Homo sapiens: one gene and its partners. The protein of the gene in region 2 interacts with the protein of the main gene of each other region in a pairwise test. Each region holds a gene or a part of one and is shown on either strand. Other genes may lie near its edges.

The links.
Region 1: the proteins of CLEC10A (region 2) and CLN6 interact in binary tests that used the Homo sapiens proteins (3 or more experiments, as listed by UniProt).
Region 3: the proteins of CLEC10A (region 2) and VSTM1 interact in binary tests that used the Homo sapiens proteins (3 or more experiments, as listed by UniProt).

The regions. Positions count from the first base shown.
Region 1 is NC_000015.10:68,222,980-68,226,728, forward strand, and holds part of CLN6 (ceroid-lipofuscinosis neuronal protein 6), read right to left. Parts: intron 1-3,749.
Region 2 is NC_000017.11:7,078,111-7,081,859, forward strand, and holds the start of CLEC10A (C-type lectin domain family 10 member A), read right to left. Parts: upstream 2,142-3,749; 5' UTR 1,942-2,141; intron 776-1,941; 5' UTR 703-775; coding exon 636-702; intron 4-635; coding exon 1-3. UniProt on the Homo sapiens protein: C-type lectin receptor involved in recognition of N-acetylgalactosamine (GalNAc)-terminated glycans by myeloid antigen presenting cells (APCs).
Region 3 is NC_000019.10:54,062,536-54,066,284, forward strand, and holds the start of VSTM1 (V-set and transmembrane domain-containing protein 1 isoform 1 precursor), read right to left. Parts: upstream 1,363-3,749; 5' UTR 1,243-1,362; coding exon 1,209-1,242; intron 1-1,208.

The DNA of each region.
Region 1 (3,749 bases), on a different chromosome or scaffold from region 2:
AAACACTGAGGAAGGCTGCAGGGTCCTCTGCCTAGGAAAACCAGAGACCTTTGTTCACGTGTTTATCTGCTGACCTTCTCTCCACTATTATCCTATGACCCTGCCACATCCCCCTCTCTGAGAAACACCCAAGAATGATCAATAAATACTGAAAAAAAAAAAGAAAAGGATCAGCGTGGCCTAGGGCAATACACAAAGCTTGCATGAGGGAAGGGAGCCTCAAAGCACGGATGGATGAATCTAACTAGGCAGAAAAGCAGGAAAGCAGGGTAAAGGCCTGGAGGTGGAAGTGAAGAAGGTTCTGCATGGAGCTGAGATGCCTGGCTTACTGGAGCCAGAGAAAGAGAAGGGACGGGCGGCTCGATCTTCAGACTGGACAGATAGCCAGTAACCCTGAGGACTGCTCAGTGGTCTGAGACGAGTGACCAACACAGAGGCCCCACCCAGCTCCTTCCTCAGTAGCCATCAGGGTAAGGCCTCAAAAAGCAGAGAGTGATAACCTCCAGGCCCAGAGAACTTGGGTGGCGAAAGAGGTAACAGCCTTCAGTTTCTTGCTCTGATACCTCCAAACTTGGCAAAAAGTAGGATGTTCGGTACGAGGAATAAAGGGATTTTGGAAGCATGAACACTTAGATGTGTGTATCTGGAAGTTATGTGTACCCAGCATACACTAGAGGCTCAGTGACTACCTCCTCCTCCACCTCAGGAAGCACCTTGGTCAATGAGAATCCCTGTCATTAGTCCAGCCTAACTTAGTAGGACAGGAAAAAAAAAAAAAGAGGGGGGCTGGGCCCAGTGGCTCATGCCTGTACTCCCAGCATTTTGGGAGGCTGAGGTGTACAGATCACCTGAGGTCAGGAGTTCGAGACCAGCCTGGCCAACACAGTGAAACCCTGTCTCTATATAAAAATACTAAATTAGCCAGGCTTGGTGGTGTGCGCCTGTAATCCCAGCTACTTGGGAGGCTGAGGCAGGACAATCACTTAAACCTGGGAGGCGGAGGTTGCAGTGAGCCAGGATCACGCCATTGCACTCCAGCCTGGGCAGTAAGAGTGAAACTGTCTCAAAAAGAAAACAACAACAACAACAACAACAACAAAAAACAACTCTAAAAAATTAAAAATTAAAAATTAAAAATTAACTGGGTATGGTGGCACACATCTGTAGTTCCAGCTACTCAGGAGGCAGAAACAGGATGATCACTTAAGCCTGGGAGGTCAAGGCTGCAGTGAGCTATGACCGTACCACTGCACTTTAGCCTGGGTGACAGAGTAAGACCTTATTGCAAAAAAAAAAAAAAAAAAAAAAAAAGCAGGCACACAGAGTGGACACTCAGCAACCAGCTTGCAAATCAAGATTAGACTGGGCACAGTGGCTCATGCCTGTAATCCCAGCAGTTTGGGAGGGTGAGCTGGGCAGATCACATGAGGCCAGGCATTCAAGACCAGCCTGACCAACATGACGAAACTCCGTCTCTACTAAAAATACAAAAATTAGCCCAGCATGGTGGTGCACACCTGTAATCTCAGCTACTGGGGAGGCTGAGGCATGAGAATTGCTTGAACCTCACAGGCAGAGGTTGCAGTGAGCTGAGATGGCACCACTGCACTGCCTGGGCAATACAAAAAGACTCTGTCTCAAAAAAAAAAAAAAAAAAAAAGATTAATCAGCACCTGCCTGGTTTTCTTCTCCTGGAACTCTGCCCACGGGAGGCAGATCATGGAATGGTAAAGGCATCCTCTCCCCCAGCTCATGTCCTGAGGATGAGCAACCTCAACCCTGTCCCAAGTTCCTGGCTCCACAGACTTAGCACACTGAGCCCCCAGCCTGTGCCAGCTAGGTCTCAATCACTAGCAAATGCTGCTGAAAACAATGGTGATGGCACAATGGCAGATAACCTGAAACAAGGTTAGACTCTTCTCTCCTTCCCAGCTTTCCAAGTCTACCATATGGGGACAATGACACCACGACAGTTGAGGAGTGCATGCCATACACTTAAAATCCTCAAGGCAGTCAGCAGCATCTGCAGGGCTGCCTGGCAGAAAAGGAAGGGGTTTCATCCTGAACAAGTCAAGCGGTAACCCACAAATGGGGACCACAGAGAGACTAATTTTGCTTCTATTTAAAGAATGGTGACATACAAGACAATGAAAAGCTTGAACAGAAAAAAAACTAAGGAAATGAAGGCAAATATAATGAGAGAATAAAGAAAGGCAACTAGAAACTCCAAGAAAAACAAAAGTAACATAAGAAAGCAAATGTAACTGTTAAACATTATTTGGCTCTGTTGGAACAATATTTATTAAATACATGGCTTAAATAACATACACATTTTATATTAATTTTCAATGTTTAGAGTCAATCCACAGATAAAACATGGAAGATAATTACGGTTTTAAAGCAGCAGATAATTATAGTCTACTTTGATAACATGAAAACAGAGGACAGAAATTGTAGGAAGGGGTGAGGAAAGCTAAAGTTTAGGGTAGGGGACTAATATCATCTTTTTATTTTAGTTTTGGAGACAAGGTCTTGCTCTGTCACCCAGGCTGGAGTGCAGTGACACAGTCATGGCTCATTGCAGCCTTGACCTCCCAGGCTCAAGCAATCCTCCCATCTCAGCCTCCTGAGTAGCTGGGACCACAGAAAGGCATGTGCTGTCACACATGGCTAATTTTTAAAATTTTTCCTTTTTTCTAAAAGGAATCAAAGGCTGGGCGCAGTGGCTCATGCCTGTAATCCCAGTACTTTGGGAGGCCAAGGCAGGTGGATCACCTGAGGTCAGGAGTTAGAGACCAGCCTGGCCAACACGGTGAAACGTCATCTCTACTAAAAATACAAAAATTAGATGGGCGTGATGGTGGGCACCTGTAATCCCAGCTACTCGGGAGGCTGAGGCAGAATTGCTTGAACTCTGGAGGTGGAGGTTGCAGTGAGCCAAGATGGCACCACTGCACTCTAGCCTAGGGGACAAGAGTGAAACTCCATCTCAAAAAAAGAATAAAATAAAATAAACCAAGAAATAGCAGTTGAGTGTAGTTTTTAAGAGTGTGGACTTGGCTGGGCGCGGTGGCTCAGGCCTGTAATCCCAGCACTTTGGGAGGCTGAGGCGGGTGAATCACAAAGTCAGAAGTTTGAGACCAGCCTGGCCAACATGGTGAAACGCCGTCTCTACTAAAAATACAAAAAATTAGCTGGGCGTGGTGCCGAGCACCTGTAATCCCAGCTACTTGGGAGGCTGAGGCAGGAGAATCGCTTGAACCCGGGAGGCGGAGATTGCAGTGAGCTGAGATCATGCCACTGCACTCCAGCCTGGGTAACAGTGTGAGACTCCATCTCAAAAAAAAAAAAAAAAAAGAGTCTGGACTTTGGAGACTGTTTGGGTTCATATCCCAGCTCTGCCACTAACCAGATCTTGAGCAAGTCACTTAACTTCTTGGGCCTTAATGTCCTCATTTGTAAAATGGAGATAATAGTAGATCCTATCCCTTTTTTTTCTTTTTTGAGACGGAGTCTCACTCTTGTTGCCCAGGCTGGAGTATAATGGCGCGATCTTGGCCCACCGCAACCTCCGCCTCCTGAGTTCAAGTAATTCTCCTGCCTCAGCCTCCCGAGTAGCTGGGACTACATGCGCATGACACCATGCCTGGCTAATTTTTGTATTTTTAGTAGAGACAGGGTTTCTCCATGTTGGTCAGGCTGGTCTTGAACTCCTGACCTCCTGATCCGCCCATCTCGGCCTCCCAAAG
Region 2 (3,749 bases):
GCCCTGCAAGAGGAGAGAGTGTCAGGATGAGGAGGGTCCAGACACCGGAGACGGGAGAAGGAGAGGGCCCAGGGAGCTGTCTAGTGAGGAGGGCTGGGCACAGGGGACTCCAGGGGAGGGTTGGACAAGGAGGATTTTGGGGTGGGGGATGCCCAGGCCTTTGACTTCAGGGACCAGCACAAGTCCTCAGTCACACAGGCCCCTCACACCCCTGGGGACCCACGTGATAGCGATATGAGGGGTCCCATGGTCAGAGCTGGGGGCAGGGGCAGGAGGACACAGGGAGAGCTGGGGGCAGCCAGCCCTTCATGGGCTTATGCTCACCTACCTGCTGGACAATCAGGTTCACAAATGAGTTTCCTTCCAAACCCAACTACTTATCTTTCCCTCCACCAATGCGCAGCTCTCATCCCCACCCCACAGAGCATCAGAAGCTGGGTCCACTGTGATCCTCCCTGTCCCAGTCTTTCTAGAGACCTTGCATCCTCTTCACACTAGGCCCGTCAGAGGCTGGGGCCTGACCTCCTCAGAGTTAGGACCCACCAGTGCGCGTGGTGGAGGTACAGAAATGATAGGAGAAATCCTTCTAAACATATAAAGAGGGCATTTTAGGAGAGTTTCCCCTTTCCTCTTACCATTTTTAAACCCCTGGACTTTCACCTTATTCTCCAAGTACTGGAAGTTTTCATACGTCCTTGTCATGCTTGGGCCAACACGGCTCTGAGGTTGTCACAGCTGAAATGGAGGCAGGGCCGGCGCCCAGTCTGGGGTGGAGCTGGGGAATAGGAGGTTGGGACTAAGTTGGAGCCAAGGGCAGGGCTGACGTTGAGTTGGGAGATGAGGCTCAGGTTGAGAATGAGCCCAGGGTTAAGACGGAAATGAGCCTGGGTTTGCAGTCGAGTTAGAATTGGGGTCGAGTTGAGTTTGGGAGTGAAACTGGAGGGTAACGTTGGAGCTAAACGCATTGCTAGGACTACCCAGTGGGCCAGTTAATCAGGCAGGACTGGAGGTTGTATCTCATGCTAGGATTGGGGTCAGTATGCACGTTGGAGCCATGGATGGAATTGGGGTTAACTTTGGTGGTGAATTTGGAAACAGAATAGAGTCGAGGTTCAATTTTGGCTTTGGGCTGGTGTTAAAATTCAAGTTGATTCTGGGGTTGGGGTTGAAGTAGGAGCTGGGTGGGGGGCGACAGGTGCGGTGGCTCACGCCTATAAATCCCAGCACTTTGGGAGACCGAAGCAGACAGATCACTTTAGGTCAGGAGTTTGAGACCGGCCTGGCCAACATGGTGAAACCCCATCTCTACTAAAAATACAAAAATTAGCTGGGTGTGGTGGTGTGCGCCTGTAATCCCAGCTACTTGGGAGGCTGAGGCAGGAGAATCACTTGAACCCAGGAGGCAGAGGTGGCAGTGAGCCGAGGTTGTGCCGTTGCACTCCAGCCTGGACGACACAGTGAGACTCAGTCTCAAAAAAAAAGAAAATGTAGAAGCTGGGGTTAGTATTGGGATTAGGGCATGGCTGGGCTGAGATGAAGATAAGGCTGGAAATGGGCCACCAATGAGGCTGAGTCTGAGTCTTAGTTTATTTTTATTTTTATTTATTTATTTTTTGAGATGGAATTTCGTTCTTGTCGCCCAGGCTGTTGTGCAACGAGGCCGTCTCGGCTCACTGCAACCTCTGCCTCCTGGGTTCACAAGATTCTCCTGCCTCAGCTCCCGGAGTCTTAGTTTATGACAGGGGATTGTGGCTGCCGTAACCCAATCTAGAATCCAGTGAAGGGAACAGAGTCTCAAATCTCCACGTAGTAATTAAACCCCACACTGCCGCCTTATATTTATTTTCATTTAGTCCCACCCAAGACCCAAAGTCCCCCTCTCCCTGCTTCCTCTGACATCCCCTGTCCCCTGGGTCTCACCGGCACCGGCAGCACCATTACCTGTGGGAGGTCTGGAGGGTGTGATTCCCACGTTGGTTGTGCTGCAAGGACCAGAGGTGGGACGTCACTCAGAGTTGGGAGCGCTGTGTCCTGGAGAGCTGGGGTAGAGGTGACTGGAGTCCTGCTGGTCTTGGGTCTGAAATCCCAGGAGCCCTATCATCTGGGACATCCCATCTCCTCAACTTTAGACAGTAAATGAGAATGAACAGGGATTAGAACACACAGAGACCATGTGTGGGTGGGGAGAGTTGGGTTTGAGGCCAGCTCTGTTCTCCTCCTCCAGGCCATGCCTACTTCCTTTCCTCTTCTCGGAGCTTCCTCATTTTTACCATCTGGGAGCAGGGCTGGATCAGAGGTACAATCTGCTGTTGCTCCTCTACCCTACACTTCCTTTCACTTCCTGCCTCTACATTTCCCAGAATTGTTGGGTCTCCATCATCGCACCTCTGATCCTAGAGAAGCCCAGTCTGTTCTCTTGCTCAATCCTGGCCTGAGTCCCTGGCATCAGCATCCTCTGGGTCCCAGTCATTCGGCTGCTCAGCTGTGGCCTCGCTCGCCTCACTCCACTCGGAAGGAGGGAAGGGGGTGCCAGAGAATAGAACTTCTTGGCCCTAATAGGACGGGAGAAGCCAAGGAAAAGAGCAAATTTTATTGAGTAATCTGTGATAGGATTATGCCAGACATTTACCTTCCACAACCATTCCCCCCAAGCACCTGGGGAGGCATTTTGGATGACGGACTAAAGGCTCAGAGCCCAAGATCACTCACAGCTTGTAAGGAGACAGTTTGGCACCCTGCTCTGGCTCTCAGCACAGGCGCTGTCTTCATGAACAGGATTCCATTTCATCCCATGATCCCTGCTCAACCCCTAAGGGAGCTGCCCTGAATCCACGCGCACATCCCTTTCAGTAGGAAGGAAACTGAGTATCTTACAAGGTGGAGAAGGAGAAGAAATACATTTTAGGTTATATTTTGTATGTACATGGGGTTGTGTTCTGCTATGTGCTTTTTTTTTTTTTTTTTGGAGTTAACAAGCTATCAGGAACATTTCTCCACATCAGTTTATAAAATGTACTTGATCTACCTGCACCTCATTTCATCATAGGCACCGTAATTTATTTATTTAGCATTTCTCTATTGACAGAAATAAATCAGAAATTTAAGTTGTTTCTTTTTCTTTTCTTTTTTATTTTATTTATTTATTTATTTTTTTGAGACAGAGTCTCACTCTGTTGCCCAGGCTGGAGTGCAGTGACACAATCTCGGCTACTGCATCTCCTGGGTTTAAGCGATTCTCCTGCCTCAGCCTCCCGAGTAGCCGAGATTACAGGTCCCGCCACCACACCCAGCTAATTCTTGTATTTTTAGTAGAGAGGGGTTTCACCATATTGGCCAGGCTGGTCTTGACCTCCTGACCTCACATGATCTGCCCGCCTCAGCCTCCCAAAGTGCAGGGATTACAGGCGCGAGCCACCGCACCCGGCCAGGTCGTTGCCAGTTTTGTTTTTATTTGGTATTCGGTATTTTGATTAGTATATGTCGCAGGTTCGGTTTTTGGAAGCCAAGGTTGAGGCTGAATTTGGGGTACAAGCTATTTATTAGGGATTAGCACTTCGAAAAGGAAAGTGGATGAAATGGTGCTGGGCAGAGGGAGAAGCCCAGCACTTTGGAGAGCTTCAACCAAACCAACAGGGAGCTCTGGGTTCAAACAATGCCACCCCCGGGAGCTGTCCAGCATTGGACTGCCACAGGGTCCTGTAGAGCACCAGCTCCTTCGGTCACTGGCAGTCAGCCCTGACATGGGTGTG
Region 3 (3,749 bases), on a different chromosome or scaffold from region 2:
AACATGGTGAAACCCCATCTCTACTAAAAACACAAAAAATTAGCCAGGCGTGGTGGCGTGTGCCTATAATCCCAGCTTCTCGGGAGGCGGAGGCAGGAGAATCGCTTGAACCCAGGAGGTGGAGGTTGCAGTGAGCTGAGATCACACCACTGCACTCCAGCCTGGGAGACAAAGCAAGACTCTGTCAAAAAAAAAAAAAAATGCTCATCTAAGGTGCAAATGTGTGTAGGAGACGAGCATTACCCCACAAGGAAGGGCTGCACCCAGAAAAGGAGGAAGGAACTGAAGCAGACGAAGCACGTCGATGTCCACCGCACCCCCCGTGCACCAGGGAGGAACTGGGGCCTTAGGGAGGTGGAGCTCTGCTGGGTCAAGCCTAGAGTTTCTATGTAGTAAAGCCGAGATTATAACCCAGGTCATCCGTTTCACAGTGTGAGCTCTGTCTGAATACATCAGGTTCAATTGGAGGATGGTTAAAATCAGCCTAAGAATCGAGCTGGTCAGAAAATTGTCTTCTTGGGGCCAGGTGTGGTGGCTCACGCCTGTAATCCCAGCACTTTGGGAGGCTGAGGCGGGCGGATCACCTGAGGTCAGGGGCTCGAGACCAGCCTGACCAACATGGTGAAACCCCGTCTCTACTTAAAATACAAAAGTCAGCCGGGTGTGGTGGCCTGCACCTGTAGTCCCACCTACTCGGGAGGCTGAGGCAGGAGAATCGCTTGAACCTGGGAGACGGAGGTTGCAGTGAGCCCAGATCACGCCATTGCACTCCAGCCTGGGCTACAGAGTGAGACTCTGTCTCATAAATAAATGCATACATACATAAATAAATAAATAAGAGAGAGAGAGAAGAAAATTGTCTTTTTGCCCACAGCCTTGCACCCTGTAGATCCCTAAGCCCAGCCCTCCTCTATTCCGACGGAGGATGATGGCAGTACTGCGGTATTTAGCGGCTGCAGACTCGGAGACCCCACAGCAGCTCTGCCTTTCCCAGCGGAGTCTGTCCCCGTGTCTCTGCAGCGCGGCCTCCTCCTCGCTTGCATGTGGGCGGCAGAACTCACAGAACCCACAGCCCAGACCCACCCACCGCAGGTGTGCAACACCTGGAAGTCATTACTTCCACACACCGCATTTCCACCTGGACTGCCACTCCCACATGAGTTTTTCTCACCAGCCCAAGCCCATTCGTCCCAGTCCTGGAGACTCACCGAGGCAAAGCAGGGAGAGGAATTCTGCGGTCATAGCGTCCCTTCTGCCAGAACCAAGGCCCCGCCTTGGGTTTTACCCTTCAAAGGCGGAGCGGGACTGGGCCGGCCGCAGCTCTCCGGCTGCCCGGTTCGTCCCCAGGATGTGCAGATAGAGGAGGTTTTGCTCTGACACTCTGGTTCTCTGCCCCACTCTTGCAGTTTCCTTCTCACAACCGACTCAGGAAACAAGAAGCCGTCGATGATAACTTCTTCCCCATGAATCCGGTGTGTGTGGCCCCACCCGCCCGAGCTCTGTCCTACCTTATCTGAAGTTCTGCCAAGAGTTTTCTGTAAATGTAATTTTTTATTTTAAAACACTAATACCGGCCGGACGCGGTGGCTCACGCCTGTAATCCCAGCACCTTGAGAGGCTGAGGCGGGCGGATCACCTGAGGTCGGGAGTTCAAGACCAGCCTGACCAAAATGGAGAAACCCCCGTCTCTACTAAAAATACAAAATTAGCCAGGCATGGTGGCGCATGCCTGTAATCCCAGCTACTCCGGAGGCTGAGACAGGAGAATGGCTTGAACCCAGGAGGCGGAGGTTGCTGTGAGCCAAGATTGTGCCACTGCACTCCAGCCTGGACAACAACGGTGAAACTGTCTCAAACAAGCAAACAAACAAACATTAATACCTATAGCTTTATAGCTTCCGTGTACCCACTAGCCAGCTCCCCACAATGTTAACCTTTTTTTGGGGGGCGGGGGGGACAGAGTCTTGCTCTGTCACCCAGGCTGGAGTGCAGTGGCGCGATCTCGGCTCACTGCAACCTCTGCCTCATGGGTTTAAGGATTCTCCTGCCTCAGACTCCCAAGTAGCTGGGATTACAAGCATGCACCACCACACCCAGCTAATTTTTTGTAGAGATGGGATTTCACCATGTGGGCCAGGCTGGTCTTGAACTCCTGGTCTCTAGTGACCCGCCCACCTCAGCCTCCCAAAGTGCTGGGATTACAGGCATAAGCCACTGTGCCCGGCCAATGGTAATCTCTTATAATTACAGTACTTTTTTTTTTTTTTTTTTTTTTTGAGACAGAATCTCTGTCAGCCAGGCTGGAGTGCAGTGGCACAATCTTGGCTCACTGCAACCTCTGCCTCCCGGGTTCAAGCGATTCTCCTGCCTCAGCCTCCCGAGTTGCCGGGATGACAGGTGTCCGCCACCACTCTTGGCTAATTTTTTTTGTTCTTTTTAGTAGAAACGAGGTTTTGCCATGTTGCCCAGGCTGGTCTCGAACTTCTGACCTCAGGCGATCCGCCTGCCTCGGCCTCCCAAACTGCTGGGATTACAGGCGTGAGCCACCACGCCCGGCGTATGGCACATTTTCAAAACCAGAGACTTTGCACTGGCATCACACGTTTAACCAGGTTCCAGAGGTCACTCAGATCTCACCAGTTTGTGCATAATTCGTTTCTCTTTTTCTCTTCCTCTTCCTTCTATTTCTATTTCCTTTTCTCCTTTTCCTTCTTTTCTCCTGCTCTTCCTCCTCTTCCACCTTCTTTTCCTCCTCCCTTTTCTTTGCCTATGGGTATAGTTCTGTAACATTTTATTGCCTGTATGTATGGCTTTATAGAACCACCGCCACAATCAAGACACAGAACTGTCCCACCACCACGTAGGAACTCCCTCATGCTGCCCCTTTATAATCGCTCTCCCACCCTAGCACCTGCTAATCTGTTCTACGTCTCTATCACTTTGTCACTTTGAGACTCTTGTATAAATGGAATCGTCCATCGCCTCACCTTCTGAGGGTGACCTTTTTCACTCAGCACAATGCCTGTGAGATTCATTCAAATGGTTGTGTGTTATGATGATGGATACATTAGCCGGGCGTGGTGGCACACGCCCATAGTCCCAGCTACTCAGGAGGCTGAGGCAGGAGAATCGCTTGAACCCGGGAGGCGGAGGTTGCAGTGAGCTGAGATCACGCCACTGCACTCCAGCCTGGGTCACAGAGCAAGACTCCATCAAAAAAAAAGAATTATCTAATGGATACAATGTGTGTCACTGGGTTAGTGGATACCTGAAAGCCCTAACTTCATCATTTTGGAATCTATCCATGCAATAAAGTTACACTTGTACCCCATAAACGTATACAAATAAAAAATAATCGTCTGGGCATGATGACTTACCGCTGTAATCCCAGCACTTTGGGAGGCTGAGGCGGGATTACAGGTGTGAGCCACCATGCCCGGCCTATACTTTCTATCTTAATAACTACAAAAATAATAACTTGCTGGATGGGTCCCTGTGCCCACCCCGTCCTGTCCTAAGTGAGGAGGATGGGAAGAAAGCCATCGTCCTGTCCTGGTGCGGCTCTCAAACAGCTGGAAATGCTGGCTGCACAGGAAACTCTAAGGATCGGCAGCTCTAGCGCATGCTACCCTTGGCAGCTGTGTGGTCTGTGGATAGAGAAGGACCAACCTGTGGTTAGTGGAGGAAGAGGAGGAATATTGCTTTGATAAGCACATCCTCAGAGTTATAACAGAGGAGACAATAGTTAT